Linked DNA regions of Homo sapiens. The protein of the gene in region 2 interacts with the protein of the main gene of each other region in a biochemical or structural test. Each region holds a gene or a part of one and is shown on either strand. Other genes may lie near its edges. The genes, in order: MARK2, ARHGEF2, ROR1 and MARK3.

Evidence for each region.
Region 1: the proteins of ARHGEF2 (region 2) and MARK2 form a complex in vitro, tested with the Homo sapiens proteins (one study listed by BioGRID).
Region 3: the proteins of ARHGEF2 (region 2) and ROR1 form a complex in vitro, tested with the Homo sapiens proteins (one study listed by BioGRID).
Region 4: of the proteins of ARHGEF2 (region 2) and MARK3, one has a biochemical effect on the other in vitro, tested with the Homo sapiens proteins (one study listed by BioGRID).

What each region holds. Positions count from the first base shown.
Region 1 is NC_000011.10:63,842,090-63,849,128, reverse strand, and holds part of MARK2 (serine/threonine-protein kinase MARK2), read right to left. Parts: intron 1-7,039. UniProt on the Homo sapiens protein: Serine/threonine-protein kinase. Involved in cell polarity and microtubule dynamics regulation. Phosphorylates CRTC2/TORC2, DCX, HDAC7, KIF13B, MAP2, MAP4 and RAB11FIP2. Phosphorylates the microtubule-associated protein MAPT/TAU.
Region 2 is NC_000001.11:155,975,548-155,983,258, reverse strand, and holds the start of ARHGEF2 (rho guanine nucleotide exchange factor 2), read left to right. Parts: upstream 1-4,711; 5' UTR 4,712-4,831; coding exon 4,832-4,894; intron 4,895-5,083; exon of another isoform or gene 5,084-5,192; intron 5,193-7,711. UniProt on the Homo sapiens protein: Activates Rho-GTPases by promoting the exchange of GDP for GTP.
Region 3 is NC_000001.11:63,769,453-63,777,030, forward strand, and holds the start of ROR1 (inactive tyrosine-protein kinase transmembrane receptor ROR1 isoform 1 precursor), read left to right. Parts: upstream 1-4,564; 5' UTR 4,565-4,965; coding exon 4,966-5,056; intron 5,057-7,578. UniProt on the Homo sapiens protein: Has very low kinase activity in vitro and is unlikely to function as a tyrosine kinase in vivo. Receptor for ligand WNT5A which activate downstream NFkB signaling pathway and may result in the inhibition of WNT3A-mediated signaling.
Region 4 is NC_000014.9:103,500,399-103,504,354, reverse strand, and holds the end of MARK3 (MAP/microtubule affinity-regulating kinase 3), read right to left. Parts: intron 1,474-3,956; coding exon 1,128-1,473; 3' UTR 524-1,127; downstream 1-523. UniProt on the Homo sapiens protein: Serine/threonine-protein kinase. Involved in the specific phosphorylation of microtubule-associated proteins for MAP2 and MAP4. Phosphorylates the microtubule-associated protein MAPT/TAU. Phosphorylates CDC25C on 'Ser-216'.

The DNA.
Region 1 (7,039 bases), on a different chromosome or scaffold from region 2:
AGCTAAGGTGGGAGAATCACTTGAGCCTAGGAGCTATTTGAGGCCGCAGTGGGCTATGATCACACCACTGCATACTAGCCTGGGTGACAGGGTGAGACCCTGTCTCTTAAAAACACCAACAAGGTCAGGCGCGGTGGCTCACGCCTGCAATCTCAGCACTTTGGGAAGCCGAGGCGGGCGGATCACGAGGTCAGGAGATCGAGACCATCCTGGCCAACATGGTGAAATCCCATCTCTACTAAAAATACAAAAATTAGCCAGGTGTTACAGCCGGGCACGGTGGCTCACGCCTGTAATCCCAGCACTTTGGGAGGCCGAGGTGGGTGGATCATGAGGTCAGGAGATTGAGACCATCCTGGCTAACATGGTGAAACCTCATCTCTACTTTAAAAAAAAAAAAAGTACAAAAAATTAGCTGGGCATGGTGGTGGGCGCCTGAAGTCCCAGCTACTCGGGAGGCTGAGGCAGGAGAATGGTGTGAACCCGGGAGGCAGAGCTTGCAGTGAGCTGAGATCGCGCCACTGCACTCCAGCCTGGGCGACAGAGCGAGACCCTGTCTCAAAAAAAAAAAAAAAAAAATTAGCCGGGTGTGCTGGCACATGCCTGTAGTACCAGCTACTTGGGAGGCTAAGGCAGAATTGCTTGAACCTGGGAAGCGGAGGTTGCAGTGAGCTGAGATTGTGCCACTGTACTCCAGCCTGGGCAACAGAGCAAGACTCCGTCTCAAAAAAACAAAAAGACACAACAAAAAGAAGGTGGAGAAAAAAGGCAGCCGCACATGGGATATCAGAAACCAAAGCAAAACTCATACTGAAATGGTAATCAGAAGCAATGAGTAGCTCACTGTAGTATCAACAGGGGCAACCAGCCCCCAAGGACAAGGTCTAGGCTGGAGCTCTGTCAGCAGGTAGTTACACTCACTAATTACTAAACGTTCATATTTTGGCATTTCCTGCTTAGCTGGGAGACTGGGAAATAATCCTACCTGGCTGGCCTTGCTCCCTGAGAAAGACTTCCTAGTGCTATTGCAGGAAGTGTCAGCACACATGGTGACCGGAAGCTCCCACCTTTCCTACAGGTTGTTTCCTATGGCTGAAGTCCCTGTAAGCTGCCAAAGAGCAAAAACTATTTTTTCTCTCTTTTCTTTCCCAGCAGGCCTGGACAGACAGTCCCATTGCGTGGACGAAAAAAGGCCTGGGATGTCACTGAATTTAGCAGCCAGATCATAGCAGTAAGGAGTCCTGATCCCCTCCCAGACCCATAAATGAGGAGCCAAAGGCAGACCCAGTCCCTTCCTCCTGGCTAGGCTGAGGGTCTTTCACCAAGTTGTGAATTGGGAAGGGAGTCCAAAAAAGGAGTTAATGTCTTAGAGCTTTCAGTGAAAGGTGTATAAAGCAAAGCTGCCTTCAGGTTCAGCATAGGGTGGAGAGAAAGCCTCCTCCCTGGAGTGAAGGACCAGCTCAGAGACCCATTCAGTGTTTGGGGAGAAGGGGGTTGTTGACAGATAGTTGTCTTCCAAACTTTCGCCTCAACGAACACAGCCCCAAAGGAGGCAGACCTTTGTATTGCCAACTTCCCAAAGAGCACACAAGAAAATAGGCCAAGGCTGCCCAAAACCAGCTTGACTGGTTCTACAGAGAAGCCCCTGGTCTGCTCCGCCTTCCTCATGTTAAAAAGAAAAAGGCCAAAAAGGTGGCTGGGAGCCAGTCACTGAACACAGCCCTCCTCTCTTTCTGCCAGGCACCAGTTGTCCCTCAGGATCACCTAGCCACCAGTATCAGTGTCCATCTCCCCTCCTCTCCTACCAAATCTTCTGTTCATTTAGTTTTATAAGCCTAAAATTAATGATTTGGTGTAAAAAGGAAATGAATTTACTTTTGCCCTTTTTGCCATTTTCTAATGAGAAATGTAAGGAATAACTGCAAGTAGGGGGAAATAAGTGCCAACCCAAAGACAGACATCTGCGGAAAGAACCACCACAGGGACTGACAAACCTTATTTATCTTGAGATGGGGTCTCACTCTGTTGCCCAGGCTGGAATGCAGTGGCATGATCACAGCTCACTGCAGCCTCAACTTCCCAGGCTCAAGTGATCCTCACATCTCAGCCTTCTGAGTAGGTGGGATACACGCATGTGCTACCACACCCAGGTAACTTTTTAAAAATTTTTTTGGGCTGGGCGCGGTGGCTCCCGCCTGTAATCCCAGCACTTTGGGAGGCCGAGGTGGGTGGATCACGAGGTCAGAAGATCGAGACCATCCTGGCTAACAAGGTGAAACCCCGTCTCTACTGAAAATACAAAAAAATTAGCCGGGTGTGGTGGCGGGCACCTGTAGTCCCAGCTACTCGGGAGGCTGAGGCAGGAGAATGGCGTGAATCCGGGAGGCGGACCTTGCAGTGAGCCGAGATCGTGCCACTGCACTCCAGCCTGGGCGACAGGGCAAGACAACGTCTCAAAAAAAAAAAAAAAATTTTTTTTGGCCAGGCGGGGTGACTCATGCCTATAATCCTAGCACTTTGGGAGGCTGAGGCAGATCACGAGGTCATGAGTTCAAGGCCAGCCTGACCAACATGGTGAAACCCCATCTCTACTAAAAATACAAAAATTAGCGGGGTACAGTGGCGTACACCTGTAATCTCAGCTATTCAAGAGGCTGAGACAGGAGAATCACTTGAATCCGGGAGGCGGAGGTTGCAGTGAGCTGAGATCGCACCACTGCACTCCAGCCTGGGCAACAGAGCAAGACTCCGTCTCAAAAAAAAAATTTTTTTTTTGTAGAAATGAGGTCTCACTATGTTGCTCAGGCTGGTCTTGAACTCCTGGGCTCAAGTGATCCTCCTGCCGTGGCCTCCCGAAGTGCTGGGATTACAGATATGAGCCACCACACCTAGCTTGAGAAACTTGAAACATTCCAGACAAAAACAGATATGAAGATAAAGGGATCTAGCCTATTTATACTTATCAGAGGAGGAGATGTCTAGAGGGCAAGAGGAGGAACTGGGATGCCTCCTCCTCTGAGACACAACTGGAAATCAAGAGGCCAGATTCTCTCTGGGTGCTGTTTAGAATCAGCTGTACTATCTCAGTCTAAAAGATAAGCAATGATGCCGGGCGCGGTGGCTCACTCCTGTAATCCCAGTACTTTGAGAGGCCACGGCAGGCGGATCACTTGAGTCCAGGAGTTCAAGACCAGCCTGGCCAACATGGTGAAACCCTATCTCTACTAAAAATACAAAAAGTGGCCAGGCATGGAGGTGCGCACCTGTAATCCTGGTTATTTGGAAGACTGAGGCATGAGAATCGCTTGAACCCAGTAGGTGGAGGTTGCAGTGAGCTGAGATCCTGCCACTGCACTCCAGCCTGGGTGACCAGAGCAAGACTGTCTCAAAAAAAAAGACGAGCAATGACCTTCAATGGCCTATAACAAAAAGGAAGGGGGCGGGTGGCAGTAACATTCTGCTCAGGAGTTAGCACTTTCAGGGTTAACCTGGGGATAGCCTGGCTCTCCAGCAGTGGGAAGAGGGTGACTTCCTCCCCCACAGGTTTGTAAAGGCTTACTCTTCCCTTTGCAGAGACAGAAGGGAGAAAATGCATAGACAACACTTCAGTGACTCACTCATGTTTGATGAAAGCTGGGAGGAGGCCTGGAGAATCCAAGCTACAAGCACAAAACGTACAAATACTGGAATCTCCCATCAAGAGAAGGAAATTTAGCCACCTATCTGGTTTGTCATTTTGCTGAACTTCCACTGAAGGAGGAAGGGCCAGCTTTAAACTCCACCCACCCTTTCCACATCCTTCTCAATTTTTGCTTTGATGGGAAAGTGGGGAAACTGGCGGCCCCACCATGGCTAAAAGAGAATCAAATCCTTTCTATACTTCCTCTCAAAGCAGAGGCCTAGTAGCTCCAGTCCACAGCTTAACCAAGCAGAGGGAATAGGGGCTTGTCCTGGTTACTGTAGGAAAGCCTCATCAGGCAGTCTCAGGGAAGGAAGATGACCACCCTCCTCACCCTTTCCATCTGCTGAGGTTACTTCATTCCAATCCATTAATGGGCTTCAAAGTGCTGCTGGGGGGAGTCCATTTAGCAGAGAAGCTATCACGGGGCCAAAGGTGGCGCCCACCCCCTACCCCATTTGTCGATAATGGGCCACAAAGTCTGAGGCTTGGCTGCACTCTAGACATAAAATATTCATTCAAGTCGACATAATACATAAGTAGGAACCTCATGGAAGCTCCTGGGAGAAGAGAAATGCCAGCCAGGTGGCTAAGTGCTCAATGGGAAAGAGTTCATGAAGGCCTGGGTTAGTCCTGATCAAATGCCCACTGAGAATTGGGTTGTTCTGTCCAAAGGGGAAACAATCTAGTCTGAGAAGTTCTGACTCCCAAAAGCTCGAACCCTGCAAACCTCTTAGGCAAGCAAAGTCTCAATCTTTTCCTACCTCATAGGCACCAACTCTGCTTAGGACATTTATGCTGAGAAAAATCTCCAGCCCAAACTTTGGTTGGTCTGAAAGATTAAGTTATCCTTGTGCAAACTTTATTTTAATCTGCAGCAGGCCGAGTTTCAACAACTGTCTTATATCCATCTGTTTAGCTACTTTCCGAAGTCCATAAATTGGAGAAAAGTAATTTTTTTTTTCTGAGATAGTGTCTTGCTCTGTCACCCAGGCTGAAGTGCAGTGGCACAAACACAGCTCAATGCAGTCTCGACCTCCCCAGCTCAAGCCATCCTCCTGCCTCAGCCTTCTGTGTAGCTGCAACCACAGGCATGTGCCACCATGCCCAGCTAAATTTAAAAAAATTTTTTTGTAGAGATGGAGTCTCACTTTATTGATCAGGCTGGTCTTGAACTCCTGGCCTCAAGCAATCCTCCTGCCTTGGCTTCCCAAAGTGCTAGGACTACAGGCATGAGCCATGGTGCCTGACCAGAGAGAAATTATTCTAATTTACTAGGTACAGTTACTTTTCAGATTCAAAGGTTACGAACTCCAAGGACTCCCAAAGCCCTTGCTCTAACAACACTTCCTTCCTGATCTCTAGGGCCAAGCCGAAAGTGACACTATTTGGTCTGACATTCACCCACATTCCTGACCAGAAGGCAGCACCACCAAGGACCCCCTGGCCAGAATCAAAGGACAGAGTGAGAATTAGCACCAGGGCACACTGCTGCACAGCTCAGAGTGTGGACTGAGATGCTAGCTAGCCGATCCAATCTACCTAAGTTACACCAAAAGCAAAAAAAAAATATTTATCCAGCAGATCACCTGAGGTCAGGAGATCGAGACCAGCTTGGCCAATATGGCAAAACCCCGTCTCTACTAAAAATACAAAAATTAGCCAGCATGGTGGTGGGCGCCTGTAGTCCCAGCTACTCCCAGGAGGCTGAGGCAGGAGAATCGCTTGACCCGGGAGGCGGAGGTTGCAGTGAGCCGAGATCGCATCGCTACACTCCAGCCTGGGCGACAGAGCAAGACTCTGTGTCAAAAAAAAAAAGAGTTTTATATATATATATATTTTTATCCAGAATCAACAATGGGGGTCCAGTGAGAGTGTTTGGAGTAGTTCAGCTGTTCCTTATAGGATCTTGTAACTTTGTTTTCTTCACCAGTACTTCTAAACTCCCCTTCCTAGAACTGAGAGAATAAACAATGCCGCTCACTGCCTAGAAGCCTGACAGCAGCCCCCTCCCTTCCCACTGCAGCAGAAGTGGGGCAAGTTTTCTCTCAATCCCTCTCTCATAGTTTCTGAGGCCCAGAGGTGGGGCAGGTCCCAGATGGAGTAGCCTCTCCCCCAGGTGTTATGGAAAACTCTAGCAGGTGAACTCTGGAAGCTGGACCTTTCTCCAGGCTTGCCTGTGACTGCTGCTGCTGGCTGGAAGACAAACAGTCATCTTGCTGATTGCTTTCACAACTGCCAAGCTTCAGGCCAGCAGAGTCATTTGGAAAAGAAGTGAACAAAAAGCTCAGCTCACAAACTAAGAATCCCCCAAGCTACGAGCCCCAGATTAGAACCCTCCTTCTGCAAAAGCAGGAAGTCTATGGCTGTGAAAAAGCACATCTGGAATCAGGTGTCACAAAAACCATCTTAAAGACAGGGCTTAACTTTTTTTTTTTTTTAATCTCCTACTTTCACTGTTATAAGCGAAGTGGACAGCACACAGGCAATCTCCCTGTAACGCAAGGTTTATTTTTATGCTTCAACATTTTCAGTGTCTGTGTGTTTCAGAGTGATTAAAGGGCTCCTGGAAACAGGTTCTCATCAGCCACATTTTTAAAGAAGAGGGAGAGGAAGAGCAAGAAAAGAGACTGGAGACAACCAGTGGTGTTTGTTTACCTATTTTCTGGTAAAACCAGTTTTAAATTTAAATAAGGTGACAGAGGACCTTTAGGGGAGGAAATCAGCCCAACTAAATCCCCTTTTTAAAAAAAATAACATTAAGACTATAGTAATGACCAAGCTTCCATGACTACTTTATCTAAAATCACAACAGGACCAAGAAGAGGTTTCTTTCACTTGGTGGCATGATCTATTCTCGGAGGCCAGTGTTTGATATACCTGGCCTTGTGACCTGAGGAGCTGCTGCTTGTCTTTTTTCCCGTTTTAAAGAATACAGGAATCAGGCCCGGCGCAGTGGCTCACACCTGTAATCCCAGCACTTTGGGAGGCCGGATCACGAGGACAGGAGACTGAGACCATCCTGGACAACATGGTGAAACGCTGTCTCTACTAAAATCCAAAAAATTAGCCGGGCGTGGCGGTGTGTGCCTGTAGTCCCAGCTACTCAGGAGGCTGAGGCAGGGGAATCGCTTGAACCCAGGAGGCGGAGATTGCAGTGAGCCAAGATTGTGCCACTGCACTCCAGCCTGGCGACAGAACGAGACTCTATCTCAAAAAAAAAAAAAAAAAAGAATACAGGAATCTGTCTGGAATAGGTGCATCCAAGGTTTTCCAAAGTCCCTGCTTTTACTGGAATGAGACTTAATATTAAATCGATACAGTGACTGGCTACCCTGAGAACAACAGTAGAAGGTATGA
Region 2 (7,711 bases):
TTTTTCTTCATTTCCAGCATTACCTCCATCTCCTCATGTCTTCTTTTTCTCTATGCAGCTGCAGCCAGCTGGAAGGACATTCAGGTACCCGGGTAGGCTCCTCCCTGCGACAGACCTTCAGCTTCCTCTCGGGCATGACCGGAAAGGCCAAGGTAGGAGTCAGCTGGGGAAGCAGGAGGCTTGGGACCCACTGCCCTCTCCAGTTCCCTTTCTCCCATCCCACCATCGCCACCTCCCACCACTCCCCCTATTAGAAACTCAGAGCAATGGTTCCATTTTTTATTTTTTTATTTTTTTAAGAGAGGGGGTTTCTGTCTCCCAGGCTGGAGTACAATGGCACAATCATAGCTCACTGCAGCCTCTAACTCTTGGGCCCAGGAAATCCTCTTGCCTTTACCTCCCAAAGTGCAGGGATTACAGGTGTGAGCCACTGTGCCCAGCCAAATGCTTCAAATTTTAAGGAAACACATGCTATCTCTTCCAGCCTGTGTCTCTGTGTCCCAGTAAATCACCTTTTCTCTGCTTTCCCCTACGCATCCAGCTTAGCAGTCAGCTGTGGACAGATGGAAGGGGAAAAGGGCCAGGAACCTCAGAAGCTGAGGAATGGCCTAGCCCTCCCTCTCTTTAGGCCTCACATAGCTGACAGGTGGGCAGCGGAAACCTCAACCATTGGACATAATAATGATAATAATTACAGCACTACTTTTTACTTCTTCATAGAGTATCAGGGTTTGCAAAGTGCTTTTACACTCATAATTTTATGGGTGGGTACAGCAGCTGAAGGAGTTGAAATTAGACCACAGGCAGAGTAGAAGCTGGGAAAGTATATGATTATGGAAGCACATGCATACCCGTACATGTGCGGCCATGTGCTGTTCTGATCCCAGGAAGTGAAGGCACATTGTTCTCATCCTTATTACCAACCGTTGGGCTCTGGTGAAACCGGGAGCTCTGCCTGCTCCTTGAATTTGTTTCCACTTTCTTCATTTACTGTCAGAGTGAGCCGCCCCCCTTTTCCTCCCCTGGCCTCCCCAAGTATGCATGTGCTTTCCAACTCGGGGCGGCTTCTGAGTATTGAAAGAAACCCCAGGGAAATCATCATCATATTCACCTTGAAGAGCCATGAGATTCTCACCAGTAAGGTTGCCTGGGCTCCTCCCAGCCCCACCCGCAGTGCCAGGGTTCTCCCCTCTTCCAGCCTTTTTTTAGCCAAGATTCCCTTTTCTCTGGGTGGGCTGGGAAGGTCAAGATGAAAGCAGGTCATGTTGTTAGCACCTCTCACCACAGGCCATGGGTCGGGAGTTGAGGCTAATGGAGGCATGAGACTGGGTGAGTCTCAGAAGAGGAGCAGCTGGAGAATCTGAAAGCTGATGGGAGGGGAGGGCAGGTGGGACAGAGAGGTTTCTCTCCCATGGGGGAATGGAGATCTCGAAGGAACAAAGCAAAAGCAGAAACCTTGGGGTCTGAGTCTCACCTTCCTACAGGCTGTCTCACTGCAGGGTAGGGGAGTCTGCTAGTGGAATCACTCCCTTTTCTTGCCATGGGAATGGTAGGGGAAGTCAGTACTGCCCAGGGGCCATCCAGATCCCGGTTGGTCTGTTTGTCCACCCTTGACCTAACAGTCTGATGGAGGGTTGAGCAACCTGGTGAAGGGGAATGAGGGCAGAGACTCTGGAGCCCAGATGGGAAAGAGGGAAGCGCCAGAGTGAGTCAGGACATTGCCTCGCTCAGCCTTTCCTCCCCACGTCTGTCATCCTGTCTTCCTCTGTTTCCCTCTCCACCATCTCCTGCTACATCTTCCTTCCACCTTCATGAATGTGTGGGCCTGCTTCACTTAATCTCTTTCTCCATAAGCAGTAAACATCAGGGGGTGGGGCTGGAGAGAAGCTCAGTCAAGCAGTGAGAGAAGGAAGTAGCTTAGTCCCTCCTACTTGAGTAGCATTGCACACTTGATGAAACACTTTCAACTCATTTAATTCTTATAACAATTCTGGCAAAGATAAGTATTTCAATCTCAATTCTACAGACAAATACTTAAAGGTTAGTTACTTTGCCCAAGATCTCACAGCTCATAAGAGGTGGCGCCGTATTAGAAACTCAGGGCTTTGGCTGTGTATTGCCACTGTTTCTCTCAATAGCCGTAACACAACAGTTCATTCCCTCTCATCCTTCCCTTCTTCCAGCTTCTGGCTGGATGGCCACTTAAGGCAATTTGGCCTTAATCACCTCCTCCCAGAATATACAAGGTCCAGACCAATAGAAGAAAGAAGAAAAACAAACCACCTTGGGACAGTGTAGAGCTTGGGCTTGGGTATCCTCGGGAGACCCATCTCTTCTCCAACTGGCCGAGACTTTGGCAACCAGGTTCTTCCCTGGGACCTCCTCCCTACCCCTGAAATGGGAGGGACACATTTCGTCAAGTTAAATGGGCTAAAGAAGGTGATGGCTATTTTTAGATCCTGGTAGAAATGTTTGTTTCTGTGTATCTAAAAAATTATTTCTGAAAATCTGGAAGATATCACTGGATAGGAGTAGAGGGGGCGCTGGAATGAAGAAGGGTCTTGGAAAAGGGGGGCAGGTGACACCAAGGAGAAGGGAAAAGTGTTCATTGTTCAAGAGGATATAGAAAACGGAAACTGAGTCAAGCTGCAGGCCAAGCTCACTAAACACAGGTGTTTTTAAAGGCAGAACACTTTTCTTTTCCCTGTCCCTAGTCCCTTTCCTTGTTATTCATCTCCTAAGGGGAAGAAGAGGGCATAGGGTGAGGGGTAGGGTAACAGCAGGTGGGATGGAAAGTAGACTGAAGGTTGGGGTGGGAGACAGAAAAGAGTTGGAGGGTCGGGTCCTCTTCTTTCATAGAGACCTTCTTAGTTGAGTTGAGGGACCATGAGGTCGCTTGAAAAACCCCAGGGTTCAAATTCTATGTTTCCTGGGTACCCAGGCTGGAGTGTGGCCCTTTAAGATTCTATCCATAGCTTGCAGCACCCTCCTGCCCCAGGCCTGGGAGAGAAGCTGAGGTCCCACCCCAGATCTTGTCTCTGGGCCTCCAGTGGGTGGAACCTTGAGGCCAAGATTCTAGCCTCTGGCTGTCTGTTTTTAAATTTAGTACATTCCTGAGTCTTGGCTGCCCACCTCAGGGGAGGTGAGTCTGGAGTTCTGGGGCCAGGAGCCTCAGGCCTCTTGGTTTGGGGGAGTTCCTACACCCTCCCCGTAGGTATACTTGGCAGGTGCAAGCCAGGAAGAACAAGCTGTGGCCCTGGGGAAGTCCTTCCTGCTTTCTAATGTCCATCCAGCCTGAACTGGGCACGGTTTATTTCCTCTTCCTTTTTCCTGGTCTTTGCTATTTAAGGATTCTAAACAGGGGAATGGGTGAAGAAGGAGGTGAAGGAGTTGCTAGGAAGGAGGGGAAGCCGGAGGGGCAGTGTGGGGGTAGTGCTGGGGGTGAGGAGCCCAACCAGCTCAGCCAGTGGTGAGGTAGTGGAGCCCAAAAATAGTGGCAGAGGCTAAAATTGGCACCTACAAGAGTGCTGAGTTGGGCTTGAAACCTGCAGCCTGGCCCCACTGCTGAGCCAGGGCAGAGAACTGCTGGATCTGGGTTGGGTCTCCCCTCCCTCCCTTCTTCTCCCACGCCCTTTGGGGCCAGAATCAGGCAGGACCCTGCTAACCGAAGGCTCTGTCCCAGGCCTCTCTGTGCTTCTGGTTTCTCCAGAGAAATGGGAGACCCTGAGAGGCAGAAATGAACTTCACTGTAAGTGATCATAGTTAGACTGGAGGAGGAATTTTCCCAATAGCAGGAAACTCACCCAAAGGCTGGCTCAGGCTGGGGAAAAGGGTCCAGAGAGATGAATGCCCCACCTTACCCTGCTTCTTGGGGAGAGGCTGGTTGGGCCCTAACTTTCTTTGACTAGGGCAGGCTGGTTTCTGGTCTTTCAGTTCCGGCTTAACTTGCAACAGAGAGAACTGCAGTTAGACACATGGAAGGCCTTCGGTAAAAGTGGAGAATCCCAACCTAGTCCCCCAAAGTAGCTGGCAGAGGCGGAGCTAGGAGGAGGGCAGAGTGGGGTCAGGAAGGCCCCAGAAGGGTGGGGCATGTGGGAGAATTCTCTCCTCTCTGTTCTTCGACCTCTGGGAGTGAATCCTACCCTTCCCGTGTACTGAAGATCCAGCGTTTAGTTCTCCTTTGATTTCCTCTCCCTCTGGCCACCCCTGCCCCCAATCGTAAAAGGGGTCAGTCTGCTCAGGCCTGCTTTGATGGGACCCCGAAGGCCAGGAAGGAACTGGTCCTGGGTTTTCTAAGAGCTGGGGGCGGATGGAATTCTCCTGCCTGCGGGTCTTTAAAGACTGAGGTAACGCAGTAGGGGAGGGAAAAAGGGAGGGCGAGGGGAGAAGGGAAGAAGGGGAGGGCAGAGGGGAAAGGGCCAACCTGGGTCCGGCGAGGGCTGCGGGGCTGGGTTTTAGGAAAAGAAGAGCTAAGAGGCGGGTCTCTGGGGCTAGAGGGCGCCCCCAGGCGCTGGAGGGGAAATAGGCAGAGGGGCCTCTCAAACCTGTCCTAGGACCCTCGTACCTCTCCGAGCTGCCCCCACACAAACCCTGGCGTCCCGTCCTGCGCGCGGGCACCCCGCCCTCCCTCCGCTCCGCCTACCCCCTTCCTGAGCTTGGGCGGGGGAGGAGACTCGGGTTTGAGGAACTGGTGCTGGGTGCCGGGCGAGGGGAGTCAGACTTCCTGTCCCCGAGACCAACGCGTGCGGGCCGAACCCCTCCCCCCGCCTTCCCCCAACAATACAGGACGCCGGGGTCCGCGCCGCGTCCTCCCTGGTCCCCCCGTCCGATTATGTCTCGGATCGAATCCCTCACGCGGGCGCGGATCGACCGGAGCAGAGAGCTGGCGAGCAAGGTGGGCTCGGAAACCCCTCTCCTTTCGCCGCGGTCCTCGGGTGCTCCCCGAACCCCGGCACCCGCGGTGCATCTCCTGTCTCCCCGCCTGCTTTCTGGGCGCCAAAATCGGGCGGAGCGGTGGATCGGCGAGCGGCGGGACGGGGTGGGTGGGGACTGCGAGCGAGTGGGTAGGGGTGGGGGGAGCGGCAGACGCGACGGTGCTGGGATCCCGGGAGGGAGCGGAGCGGACCTGGGCTTGGTCGCCTCCAAGCCGGCGGGACCGAGTGCTTTAGGCCGCTTGAAAGAAAGTTGCTCCGGTAAGGGACGGAGCGGGAAGAGGGAGGTGTGTGTCTCGCGGGTGGGGGCGGTGGAAGCTCCGGCACCTCCTCTCACCCCGGGCCCCACCGGCTTGGGCTTGGCGTGGCGACCCCCCATCACTCCCCAATCGCTGGCTTGGTCGTTCCCCCTTTGTCCCCGCCATCCGGCGGAGGGGACGGGAGGGGGTGGTTTCCCGGCTTCCTCCCACCACCACCACCACCCCTCCAAGACAAAAGTCAGCTCCTCCTCTCCTCGCAAATGGACTTTCCAGCTGTGATTCAGTTCTCCCCTCTGGGTGGGCGGGTGGCTGGGGTCGGGACGGCCGAGGGACGGCTTACTTCCCCCAAACCATCACCTCTAGGTGAAGGGAGCAGAGGTCTTTGTGTAGCTGGGCTCCTTTCCTCCATCCTGAGCCCTTCTGCCTGGAACATAGGGCCTCCATCCCTATCTGCCCCGCCAGCCTCCTAGCTCTTCCTTCTCCCAACCTGAAACCCTTAGGCTGACACACCTGGCACTATGCATTGTGTTCCCTGCCCTTCCTCCTCCTCCCCCAGCGCTCTCATTCTCTTATCTGCTCGTCTTGGGGTCCCTTCACCTAGCATTTCATGAGTCTGGGTGTATAATTATCCACACGCCTCCCCCATCATGACCTCTTGGCCACTCCTCTCCAAGTACCCTTTATCCCTGCCTTTGTACCCAGCCCCATTCCCAAGTGCCCTGACCTTTCCACACCCAGACCCCAGGAAATGATGAAGCTGACTTGCAGGTGAATAAGTCAGAGCTGAAAGGAAGGTGGTGCCTGCAGACAGCACCTCCCAGCTCCTTTGGGGCCCCCGCACTGTACCCATTATCAGAAAGGACAGGTCCCAGCCCAGAGTTGGTTTAATCTCTGGCTTCTCTCCAACCTGAGTGCCCTACTACCCTGGTGCCAGCCTATGCTGATCACCAACTTCAGCCAAGGGAGCAGTACCCCTTAGGAGTCCTTAAGGGTGATGGAAAGCCCTCCCCTCCACCTCCCTGGTAGTTCCTAGCCAGGCTACCTGTCTTGATGCTAAACTGGGAGAGACAGAGGTTCCATCCTGGGTTGGGGGTGGAGGGCCAGGGAAAGCAGCTTTAAAAGGACTTTCCTTAGGGGGTTGGGATTAGATTTTGCTATCTGGAAAGCAACTGGGGATTCGAGTAGGGCCTAAGACAAACAGAGGGCCGGGGTGAGGTGGCTGAAGTGTGGTGGAACAGTGGGGTGGCAGACAGGCTCTTCACAGCCTGCGCCAGCCCAGGCCCCAGCTCCAAAAGTCTGTTTATTTTTTCAACCGTTTGAGCTGAGACCCTGGAGTAGAGCCAAGGGGGGCGGGGGAGGTTTTTTGAAACCGCAGAAATTTGGTTCCACCCTAAAAAGGAAAGCCATGGGGGAGCTGGTTGGGGGAAGACCTGGCTAGGGGGTATAGAGAGCGGTTCTGTGGGGGCAGGTAGCTACTGGGATCCCTTTTCCATTATTGTGGGGAGCTGGGACGTCAGACATCTGGGTGTTCATGCTCTGTTTTTGTTTTTGTTTTTGGTGGTGGGGGGACTGGCTCTTCTTTCTACTATGGGGGCTGGCTGTGTGGGGCAGGTAATTTGGGAATCTGGCTGGCAGCAGGGAGTCGGGGGCTGAGTGGGTGGATCTGAGAGGGCAAAGAGGCCACCGGAGAAGGGTGGTTGTCAGTTTGGGCCGGTCGGAAGGGGAGGGCCACCTCCGGAAAACTGTGGTTACAGAAGGGGGAGTTGGTTCTTAGCCAACAAACCCTGGATCCCCTCTCCCCCTCCCCCCAGCACACCAGCTGTCTCCTTTCTTTTTATACTGTGGTGGGAAGTAGAGGGGCACCCGCTGGAAAAGACATTATTTGAAGAAGATGGTGTCCCCTGCTACCTCCTTGGGGGGATGGGTCACAGCTAAGCCCTGACACCTCAGCCCCTCCCCATTCCTTGCCTCATTCCCTGGGAGCTCCTCCTAGGAGGAGGAATGTAAGTTTAACCTGCCCCTTTCTCTGTCCCATCCTCACAGGATCTCTCTGTGTAGCCCCCTCCATGCTTCCTTTTTCTTTTCACTCCATTTCTGTTCTCCCAGGCTGTCTTCAGTCCTCCACCTCCTCTGTTCTCTCTGCTCTACTTCCTACCTCCACAAGCCCCAAACCTCACAGGTCCCCTTTCTCTCTTTAGTCCCCTGTTCTTCCCTTTCTCCTTTCCCAAACCCCAACCATCATATCCCTTAGAACAAAGGGTCCTTTTCTGCCAAGCAGGGACCAGAGGTCCAGGGATGGCTGTGGAGGCTGGGGGTCCCCTTGGAATCTCTGTGGTGGGCAGGTGGAGTGGGGAGTGTGCAGAGCGACTATTTCTTTGTTCTGAGGAATGGAGAGGTGGCTGGCTTTGTGTGCAGGACTAGGAGTGCAGTGGAGAGGAGAGCTGGGGGAGCCCAGGAGGGAGCTGAGAGGGCTGACGGTGTTGGAGGAGAGTGGAAGAATGGGGGGTCCTCCTGGTGGCT
Region 3 (7,578 bases), about 92 Mb from region 2:
GTCTTGCTATATTGCCCAGGCTGGTCTCAAACTCCTAGGCTCAAGAGATCCTCTCACCTTAGTCTCCCTAGTAGCTGGGATTATAGGCACAAGTCACCATGCCCAGCTCCCCAAACACTGTTTTGTGACTTTTGTATTCAAAGTATAAAGTACATTATTTTATACTAAAAATGACTTTATATGATTGGTTCTATTATCTGTCTCTCTCTCCTTTTAGCAGGTGAGAATGTTGTATCATAAAGAAATTAAACAACTTGTTCAGGTCATCTAGCCAGCTCCGTTTGATGTTAGAGTCCATTCTCTCTCTCTTTTTTTTTTTGAGATGGAGTCTCGCTCTGTCGCCCAGGCTGGAGTGCAGTGGTGCAATCTCGGCCTACTGCAAGCTCTTCCTCCTGGGTTTACACCATTCTCCTGCCTCAGCCTCCTAAGTAGCTGGGATTACAGGCACACACCACCATGCCTGGCTAATTTTTCTATTTTTTTGTTTTTAGTAGAGATGGGGTTTCACTATGTTGGTCAGGCAGGTCTCGAACTCCTGACCTCGTGATCCGCCTGCTTCGGCCTCCCAAAGTGCTGGGATTACAGGCGTGAGCCACTACGCCCAGCCCGAGTCCATTCTCTTAATCACTAACAATAGTAGCTAATAAATATTGGCTGCTTACTGTGTAACTGGTACTATGTTAAATTCTTTACAGGTATTAACTAATTTAATCTTCAGAACAAAGCTACAGGTAGGTATTATTATTATGCCTCTTTACAGATGAAGAAACTAAAATACAGGGACCCAGTACTCACAACTATTAAGAGCAGAGCAGGATTTGAATCCATGCAGTCTGGCTCCTGAACTCTTCCTGGTAAGCATCACACTACACCGTTTCTCCAAGAATAATTAATGGTTGTATTTGTTGGGTAAATCAAGCGGATGGCCCAAATGAGTCTCTCCCACCAGCAAGTTTTTGAAATGAAAGATAGTTTTCTATTTAATGCTCCCCTTGGCACCTGACCCCAATGATTTACTATTGCCCTGCTCTTGTTCCATTTTCCCACTATGCCTTACAGTGATAATAAACAGAACCGTGTGTGCCAGTGCAAGAGGCCAGGGGAGATGAGTGCCTCTGTAAGTAGCAGGAGCCTCAGCCAGTACCTCAGGTTGTGCCAGGCCCCTGGGAAGTGAGTAGCTTCACCTGGGTTCTCTTATCCATTTGTGTCAACTTCTGGCTTCCTAAAAGAGAGGGCATGGCCAAAAGAGGCTTGTGAGAGGAACATTTAGATTGCTTGGAGCTTTTATCATAGCCCACCAGGGGTTTGAGACAGTGGTGTATAGTGTAGAGAGATATTTGACTTGGGATGGAGTCCTGCCTTTTTGCTTTAATTTTTTGACTCTGGGCAAGTTTTAAAAACTCACTTCACTTAGCCCATTTGTTAAAAATGGGCTAAGACCAACCTTATTTTGATGATATAAGTAGGTTCATGCAGTAAATAATAATAACGATAATATCTGCCATTTATTAGGTGTCTCTCTGTGCCAGATACTCATAAAAGCACTTTCTAAGAGTTAACTCAATTAACACTAACCACAGCATGAAATAGGTGCTATTATTATCATCATCATTTTACAGGTGAGAAACAAAAGTACAGGCAACTAAGATATTTGTCCATAGTCACTCAGCAGAAACCAGAGAAGCTGAAGCTTGAGACCAAGCAGCCCAGCTCCCCAGCCTGTGCTCTTAAACATTGGCATTTACTGAACTTGCATAAATAAATAAATATACATATACACATATATATATTTTGCATATTATATATATTTTACCTCTTTTACTTTTTTAAACAGGAAAAGCCTTTTCTAACACCCCCCCACCCCAGCATTTTTTTTTTTTTTTTGAGATGGAGTCTTGCTCTGTTGCCCAGGCTAGAGTGCAGTGACGCTATATCCACTCACTGCAACCTCTGCCTCTCAGGCTCAAGTAATTCTCATGCCTCAGCCTCCCGAGTAGCAGGGATTACAGGTGTGTCACCACGTCTGGCTAATATTTTGTATTTTTTTGTAGAGATGGAGTTTCACCATGTTGGCCAGGACGGTCTCGAACTCCTGATCTCAAGCAATTCACCCACCTTGGCCTCCCAAAGTGTTGGGATTACAGGCATGAGCAACCGTGCCAGGCCATTGCTAACCTTTTCTTTGGAAACTTGTGTGCTATAGCTAAACTGAAGGAATCTGGGATGATTTGATGATGGTCCTTACCCAGGTCTGGACTGGTAGGTCTAGGTCCTAGTTTTGGCTCTGGCCAGCTTTGGGCAAGGCGGTTTCACTCTCCTAAGTCCCACATGTCTCCTGTATAAAATGTTGAGGGGGGTGTACTAGTTAATTTCCAAAGCCCTTTCCAGGTCTCACATTCCTTATGTCTATGATTCTGTGATTAAGTTCCTGGAAGTTTAAGTACTGATAAAAGTGCCATTAAGTTCTGTATACTCAGCACTAGCAGCTGTCTGTTACCTAAGATACCTGGGCCTAGGAGTTATAGGGTGGGGGCTGGGGGCAGGGTGGGTGGATGAGAAAGGCTCCTTGTCTGACAACTGTGTGTATTGACTGTAGACAACAGAGGACTGCCCAGCACTGTGCAGTGTAACTGAGTATCCTCTGATTTCTGGGCTGTGATATACTAAGACTGACCATCAAAGACTGTTTCCCAACAAGAGAACCTTGTGCAGTAAGTTCCTCAGGCAAGAAGCGAGATAATTGGGACAGGATTGAATAGATCTCAGGCAGAGAAACTTGGGGGACAGATCAATGTAGGTAATGAACTGGTTGACCCAAGGCCTCTCTGTCTATCATTTTTTGACCTCAGGTCAGAGCGATAGAAAGGGGGAAAACTACCGACACAGCTCCTGCCATGAAGTCCTGGAGAAGAATAAGTGACTGTTTGTCCCGCATGGGTTAGTCATTCACCTGCCTGAAGGCAAAGGGCTGGGAGTCTGGAGTCCATGACCTGCTGGGACATACTTTGGGCTGCATTTTTTCCCCCTTCTAATGTCTCAGCTCTCAGGGATCTGCTTTTCCTGGTGCCAAGGAGTATGGATGAAATTTTGTCCCTCCTCCATGCACCCCTATAAAACAAATATGATGAGAAATTAATATTTTCCAAATGGTGACCTAACCTTTGTTCATTAATTGAGCTCCTATTGCATTCCAGGTACTGTTAGAGGCCAGCAAGATACCTAGATGATTGAGACAGAGTCCTCGCCCTCCATGAAGTGACTGTTCATTTTAAAACCCTAAAGCTGGGTTCTTAGAGGCTACTGCAACAGCAACAACTCCCGAGTGAGTGCTTATCATGTGCCAGGCTCTGGTTACAGGCTTTAACTCTCTCAGTGGAAACAGCCTGAGTGCTGGCTTGGCTACCCCATGTCTGTGAGACTGTGGGCAAGTCATTTACTTTCCCTTTGAGTTTCAATTTCTAAAACTGTAATATGGGGATAATATATGTAAAACAGCTAAGAAGTATATACTTTTAATGACTCTTTTTAGTGTCAATGGAGGATTTGTGAGCAAATGCATATAAAACACAAGGCAAACAGGAGGTATTTAGTAAGTGGCCACGTGATTATTGAGAGACTATGGGCTTCTTCCTGTTCCTCCAGAGCAAGACTGACAGGTGTCCTATTACCCTTGCATCTTCAGAGCCTAGAGCACAGCCCTGAAAACAGCAGGCGCTCACCACTTTTTATGATCAAAGGCAGTCTCTACAGGGAAAGTCAAATCATTATGGGTATTTATGAATTACAAAATCCATAAAGTTAAACCAGGAGAAATGGACAAAAACACACTCATTGTAGAGGTCTTTAATGATCCCTTGGCTCATGGCAGAGCAGCTAGACAAAAAACAAACAAACAAACAAACATGCAAAGATTCAGAAGGCCTGAAAAAATAATGAATACAAAGAAGATAAATCGATACAGTATTCTATCTTCACATTCGGAAGACAAAAACACCTTTCAAAAAACCATGGGACATTGGCAAAAATAACCACAGATAATCCTCAATAAATCTTGCCAGGAGGCAGTACAGATGACATTGAATTCAGTGAGACTACAAATTAAAGACAAAAAGGCGAAGTATAAATTACTTGTGTAAGAACTCTCTCAACTCTTGGGTCCAAGAAGAAAGCAAAAGGGAAATTGTATGATAGCAATAAATGTGCCATTACCCAGAGTCACACAGCTAACAGTGACACAGCTGAGGCTGCTAGAACCTGGGTCTACTGTCGTCCAGCCACGAACTGGCTTGAGATCCCGGATAAGTCTCTCTGAGCCTCGGTTTCCCCTTCTGTCAAGTAGCCTCGAAGGTCCCCGGCGCTCGGTTCGGTGGCGAGTTTGAGGAGTGTGGGGGAGGGGAGGGGAGGGAGCGTGCCCGAGACGCGGGAGCCGCGACCGCTTTCTGCGAAGTCGGGGAGGGTGCGGGCGTTGAGAGGCTGCAGCAGAGGGCGCTGGGTCGCCAGCCTGGGCCGCGTCTCCCATTGGTCGGGGCTGGGGCGCTGGGCTGGAGAGTTGGTGGAAAGTGACAAGTTGAGCGAGAGAGGGAGCGTGGAGAGCTGGAGCAGCCGCCACCGCCGCCGCCGAGGGAGCCCCGGGACGGCAGCCCCTGGGCGCAGGGTGCGCTGTTCTCGGAGTCCGACCCAGGGCGACTCACGCCCACTGGTGCGACCCGGACAGCCTGGGACTGACCCGCCGGCCCAGGCGAGGCTGCAGCCAGAGGGCTGGGAAGGGATCGCGCTCGCGGCATCCAGAGGCGGCCAGGCGGAGGCGAGGGAGCAGGTTAGAGGGACAAAGAGCTTTGCAGACGTCCCCGGCGTCCTGCGAGCGCCAGCGGCCGGGACGAGGCGGCCGGGAGCCCGGGAAGAGCCCGTGGATGTTCTGCGCGCGGCCTGGGAGCCGCCGCCGCCGCCGCCTCAGCGAGAGGAGGAATGCACCGGCCGCGCCGCCGCGGGACGCGCCCGCCGCTCCTGGCGCTGCTGGCCGCGCTGCTGCTGGCCGCACGCGGGGCTGCTGCCCAAGGTAAGAGGCGCCCGCCGGCCCCCGCCCGCCCAGACCCCCTGACCCGTGGCCACCCTTCCGCCGTCCAGCCGGGCGCGGGACACGCAGGAAGCGCCGCGCTGGCTCCGGGGCGCGTCCGGCCACCCGCCACGGGGCTCGCCGGCGCCGCCAGGCCAGGGTTTGCCCCGGAGCCCCGCCAGGCCAGGGTTTGCCCCGGAGCCCCGCGGCGGGCCGGGGCGCGCCCAGGGACTCGTTCCTCGGTGCGCAGCAGCGATTGTCAGCGCTGACAGGAAGCGTGGAGGGGTTTGAGGGTCCTGGGGGTGATCGGGGCACTTCTGTGCAGGGCGTCCCCCCTTGTCTCCCTGGACCTCTAGCGCGCCCCAGCCGGTGTTCAGGCAAGTCTATCCTGCCCCCAAGTTGCGAGCCGGCCCGGAAGGCGCGGTCCAGGAGGGAGTTTGGATTTTCAGTGGTGCTCGCCAGAGCCCAGGCGGCTCGCGGATCGACGCAAACAAAAGCCCTGTCCTCCTGGGGCTCCGGCGGCCTCGCATCGCCACCGCCCCCGGCCCTCCGGCCCTCCCGAGAGTCATCATAGAGGCCAAAACTTGTGCGCCGCTGCAGCCGCTGCCACTTTGTGCAAAATGTGCTGTCAGAGGCGGCCTGCGGCTCCAAAGTGCTTTGGGTGTGCACGCGCGCGCGCGCGCGTGTGTGTGTGCGTGTTACAAACAAGAGGGGGAAAAGCCATCTAATGCATATTTGATTTTGGTAATCTCTAAAGACAATCGCAACAGTTAGAGAAAGACTTCACCGCAAGCCGGAGCGTCTTAGTTCGCTGCGGGAAGCTGGGGTCCTTGCTGCGTCTGAGCCGGTACACAATGAGAGGGAAGAGCCCGGCTGAGCCTGTGGAGACAACCGATTCATTCTTTGGAGGTTGGAGGGGGAAAGTTGATTAAAGTCTCCGGGGTCTCGGGCCTCACTTTTAACATGCATCCCTTGAGGGGGTGAGGAGCCTTTGGATTCTGCCCTCCCCCACTCCCAGCCCTAAACCTGAGCGGATAAATAGATCTCTGCTCTTTTATCATGCATCTTTCATTTTTAAGTTAGCACTGTGTTTAGGAAAAGAAAAAGTTCTGCGCTACTTAGCAGTTGAGAGGAAAAAGATGTATTCACTACATAGACTACGAATGCAGAATTAGTTTTTACTAAAAGTTAGCTGACTTTCTTGGTAGAAAACACACTCTGGAAGGAAGTTGTGTGAAATTTTGATTTCTTAGAGATGGTTTTTGGAAGCTAGAGTAGCATTTTCTGAGGATGATTTCTGAAACGGATCCTATAATGTGGTCGTGCTAATCTGAAAGCTCCTGGGGGTAAATAGAGCTCCTAATTGTAATTAAGATGTGCATCAGCAGGGAGTGCACCTTCCTGATGAAAAATCCTAATGAAATGTAAACAGCTTGGTCACATAGATGTTTTGCTTGGTGATGCCAAACATCTGGCCTTGCGCCACAACACCTGGGTGAAAAGTAAAAATGGGCCATGCTGCCTAAGTAATGTAAACATCCTTCTCAAGTTGGGTTGCCCAGCAAATTGAGGTGGAGATAAGCAGGGTGATTTTAACTAAGGTGGGACTCCTGGCTTGGGGCTTTGGTTAATTCAGTTATTTCCCCTGTGGACTCCTTTACTTTGTACTTCACCTTTCAACAATAGTTGCTTTTAGATCATAGCCCCTTGTGGGGGTGGGGGTCACTTACCTTTAAATACATGTCCCTGCATTGATTTTGCTCACTGTAAACACCCTTCTTATCAGCAGCCACCCCAATTCTGTCTCCTTTAACTGTTTACAGCCTTTTAGAGTTGTTTAAAAAAGGTATTGCCTATTCCATTGTAGCAGGAGGAGCCACAGACAAAACTCCTCAGACACCCAGTGAGCAATTCCTGTCCCTTTTAAGGGCTCACAACTCTAAGGGGGTCCACGTGAGAGGGTCATGATGGGTACATGACTGGGGGCTGCATGCACTGGTAATCAGAACGAAACAGAACAGGATAGGGATTTTTACACTGTCTTTCCATACAATGTCTGGAATCTATAGATAACATAACCAGTTATGTCAGGGGTCGATCTTTAAGTACCAGGCTTAGGTCAGGCAGGCCCAGGCCTGGTTTCGGGTCTGGTTCCTTGGTTTCAGGTCTGGTTCCTAGGTGCCGGGCTACCTGCCTTTAATTTCGCTTCTCTTTCCTTTTCTGAGTATAAAACAATATAAAACAATATGAGAGGGTCTGTCTCTCTTCTCTCACCATACTCTTTAGTAATGAGCTCAAATCTGTTATTATTGTCTTATTTGTTGTTTTATAAATCCCTTTCCATTTTGTGAATGTTTGATCTTTTCTCTGGGGTCAAGACTTCTGGTAGAACTCACGTTTACTTTCTCCTCTTGGACTCAAGATTCCTAAGGTAGCCCAGCCAGTGGCTCAGGAAATCAGCTTAAGCGGAGATATGTTTCATGTATTTATTTAAAAAGATACAAAACATTTCTCCCATCATTTTT
Region 4 (3,956 bases), on a different chromosome or scaffold from region 2:
CCAAAAGTGCTGGGTTCACAGGTGTGAGCCACTGTGTCCGGCCTCCAGACTTTCATACTCTGACCAACAACAAACCCAGAACCCAGAATAGCACACCAATCAGTGTGACAACTTCCCTGTGAGAATAAAGCAACACAATGAGTTATGAGCTCATTACCCCTACACAACCATGTAGGTGTTGGACAAAAGCTGCAGGTCTGATTCATGTACTGAATCACAAGAAAGGAGAAAGGAAATTTACATACTTCACAGAGAACCAACCCAGAACTGTCAAGACCTGGTGTTTCTCCATAGGGCTGTGCCACAACTCCCAGGGTTAAGCTGCAGCTGCTCTGGATTCCCTTCCTTCTTGGGTCACCATGAGGGCCATCTTCTCTCTTTATTGCCTTGGGAGAAAAAATATGCTGGTAATCACAAAATGCTGGGACCCCTGCGAAGGTCCACGTGGCCCCAAGCCTTCATACACATTACTTCTGCTCAACTTGAGGATGTGTTAAATACAGCATTAGGAGACAATGCAAGATTTTACTGAGAAAAAGTGAATTTTTAATTATCTTGTGAATCTACTTAGAAAAACACACACAAGCAATGTTCACAACTATAAATTTAAACCTTTTGCACTAAAAAAACACAAAACAACAAACACAAAACCACAGGCATGAACTGTAAACCTGTATTAACTATGAACTGGTCTTAAGGTTAATTCTTAGCAGTCATTCAGTATTTTCCTCCTTGGCAACTGTAATGTTTTAGCACCGGATGATCTCCCGCAGAGGTACTAGTAATGACTGGCTGCCAGTGTAGGGAGATGCTTCCATATACACCACTTCACACACATACCGTCCACTCTCACACCCACCCAGACGGGAGGCACATGGAGATGGGGCCACACACCGACTCTCAGGGTAACGGAAGTAGGGCAGGGGGCGCATAGGTTGCACATCTTTAATGTAGTGCATTCGTAGAAAAAAGGCCAGCTTTCGCTCCCAGGCGTGCTCTCGTCCTCAGACTTTAATTTCATGATTTAGAAGATGCAGACGTTATTGCCTAAATATTATTCTATACATTTCCATCAGTGTTCAGGAAAACACTTTAATTGCTACTTAATTTACATCATAATCACTGGGTTACAGCTTTAGCTCATTGGCAATTTTGGAAGCAATATTTTTGAAGGCTATGGATGTCCCCGATATCCGCTTAAACCGGACCCCGTTCAGAGACAGTCTTGGCAGCTTGCACACTTCCATTTCCCACTGCACGAGGTTCTCCGCGTGCCCATCTCCGTGGACGCAGAAGAGCAAGAAGCGCTCCCTCTGCTCATAGTCGCAGTTATTGGCGTCCAACACTTTGCGGATTTCCCGCATCATGTCCCCGGGATCCATTGAACTAGTGGTTTTCATGCTCCAGGTGAAGCGTAGGGATCGAGGCTTTGCTTCTTTGTTTTCATCTTTTTGCTCAGCAGATACATTGCGACTGAAATGCATAGAGGCAGGTTTATTTTTAATCGTACAGGAAAATCAACCTCTTACACTTCAGCTAGTTCCTCATTCACGTCTTTGATACAACACAACTAACGACTGACCTCCACATTTTCCTGCACAGACTCACATTTGTAACTAAGTCTATTTTCGTCTATTTTCTTCCCTCACCCCCTAAAAGTCATAAGCCACACACAAAAAGATCTACCTAGCTGGAAAATCTTCACCAGCCACCTGTGCTTACTAAAATGAACGAAGTAATTCGTTAAGCAGAATCCTTGGAAATCAGGCAAAAAGGACAGCATGCCCCACTCCTCAGGGCTCTGCAGGCCCAGCTCAGGGAAGGAGTTGCCAGCCAGCTCCTGCCCACCCCACCCATCCACCCTGGGCTGTCCCTCTCCTGCAGTACTGTTCTTTCAGATGTGAATCACTGTAACTGGCACTCAGGGTAACTGGAGACTCAACATCCGCAGTCTAAAATTGCTTTGCTGTACAGCCCTGAGGCTGAACATGATGCTCTACCCACCTCATTGTTTTTCCTCCTCTCTGGTTTGTTAATTAAACGTCCAATTATACAGTTAAAGAAAATCTCAAATGACACAATCTTACTACTGGAATAGATGGAAAAATGCAACGGGACACTTCTCTGTCTGTGGGGGACTGACACCACCCATGTGGATGCCCTGTGGATTCAGAATGTAAGCCTTGGTCTGATGTCCAAGAGGCAGCCTAAGTAGAGCCCAGGCCGGGGTCTCTAGGGAACACCGCGGTTTACCAGCCACTCCTTGGCATTTAGTCATTATTGCCACAAGCCGTTATTTATATTCTCATGTGTGTATCTGGTGGCCTCAATTAAGACAGTGAGTGCCTAGCATTCTTGGGAGTAAAATAGTCTATGTACCTTAAGTACACTCCATCCTATGGCCAACTAACCAGAGGTGAGGGGCTACAGCTTTTGCATATGCACATAGCTCTCCGTGTCACCAACCTGCCAGTATTCAATTTGGTTCACATCCACCAATACTGATGAGAGAAGCTTCCTATGTATAAAATGCCACGTTAGATACTAAATGGGTTACAAAGATAAGCAAAAGCTCTCAAACTCATCTGGAGCCAGGAAGACTGTAAGGTGAGACAACAGTGGCAGCACAGGAAAGGCTGGCCATCTCCTAGAGGGCAGCAGAAGAGGTGGAGCCCGCCGAGCAGGAGAACGTGACAGGCAGGATGAGACAAGGAGGAAACAGCACGGGTGGGGGTGGGCCTGCATCTGAGGAGAGCTATGAAGAGCCATGGGATTTCAACAAAATGCAATGAAGATAGGGAAGAGTGTTTGTTTTGAGTAGAGGGGATCACAGCCAAAGGGGAGGTAGGAAAGTACAGGATGTGTCTGTGGCATAATAAAGTACACAGACTGAGTGGAACTGGAGGCACAGTGTCATCACCCCCACAACAGCTGGTGGCACTTAATGAGCACTTGTGGTGGTCAGGCCCCAACTTACTTGATGCCCACGTAGGTCCTATTATGTCACCTTCCTATTATGGGTGGGGAAACAAACCAGGATCTAGAGCCTGCTCCTGGCTGGGATGGGTAGGCCTGGAGAGGGAATGCTGCCTGGCACTCACCCTAGTGCTCTGCCTTGATGGGGCAGCAGAGCTGGGGCTGCTGGGGCAGCCTGGACCACGCCACTCAGGGCCTCGCAGGGACGTGGCCAGGTGAAATAGTGGAGGTCACTGAAGGTTTTAATTCAGAAAGGTCATATGACCAGAAGCGGGCTTTTAGAAAGACCAAAAGGACAAACGGTGAATGAGGACCTGAAATAGCCTGCTGGTGACTGGCATAAAAAAAGGGCACAAGTGGAAGAGACCTAGAACAAGGGACATAGAGTCCTAAGGCTACCTGGTGATTGCCTCCCCTCAAATCCATGCAATGATAACTATACAAAATGGAAAAGCAAGGCTGGGTGCGGGGGCTCATGTCTGTCATCCCAGCACTTTGGGAGGTTGAGGTGGGAGGTTCACTTGAGCCTAGGAGTTTGAGACCAGCCCGGCCAACATGGCGAGACCCCCATCTCTACAGAAAATACAAAAATTAGCCAGCATGGTGGCAGTGCCTGTGGTTCCAGATACTCAGGAGGCTGAGGTGGGAGGATCGCATAAGCCTGGGAACTCGAGTAAGCCCTGATCACGCCACTACACTCCAGACTGGGTGACAGAGCGACACCGTGTCTCAGAAAAAAAAAAAAGAAAAGCAAAACACTCAACTATATAATCACCATTCTTAGAAGAAAACATATCTAGTTTGAAATATGGACATTCTATTAAGTACTTTGCTTTTATTCCTTGTGAAGAGAACCATGTGAGGGGTCAGTGATGAACTGAGGGCTTATTTCTCTGAGCACTGCTACCCAACCCAGACCTCCAAAGGCTGTTAACGCCCAGGCAGGAAGGCTGAAGGCCTCGCCGTGCTTTGAACACAAA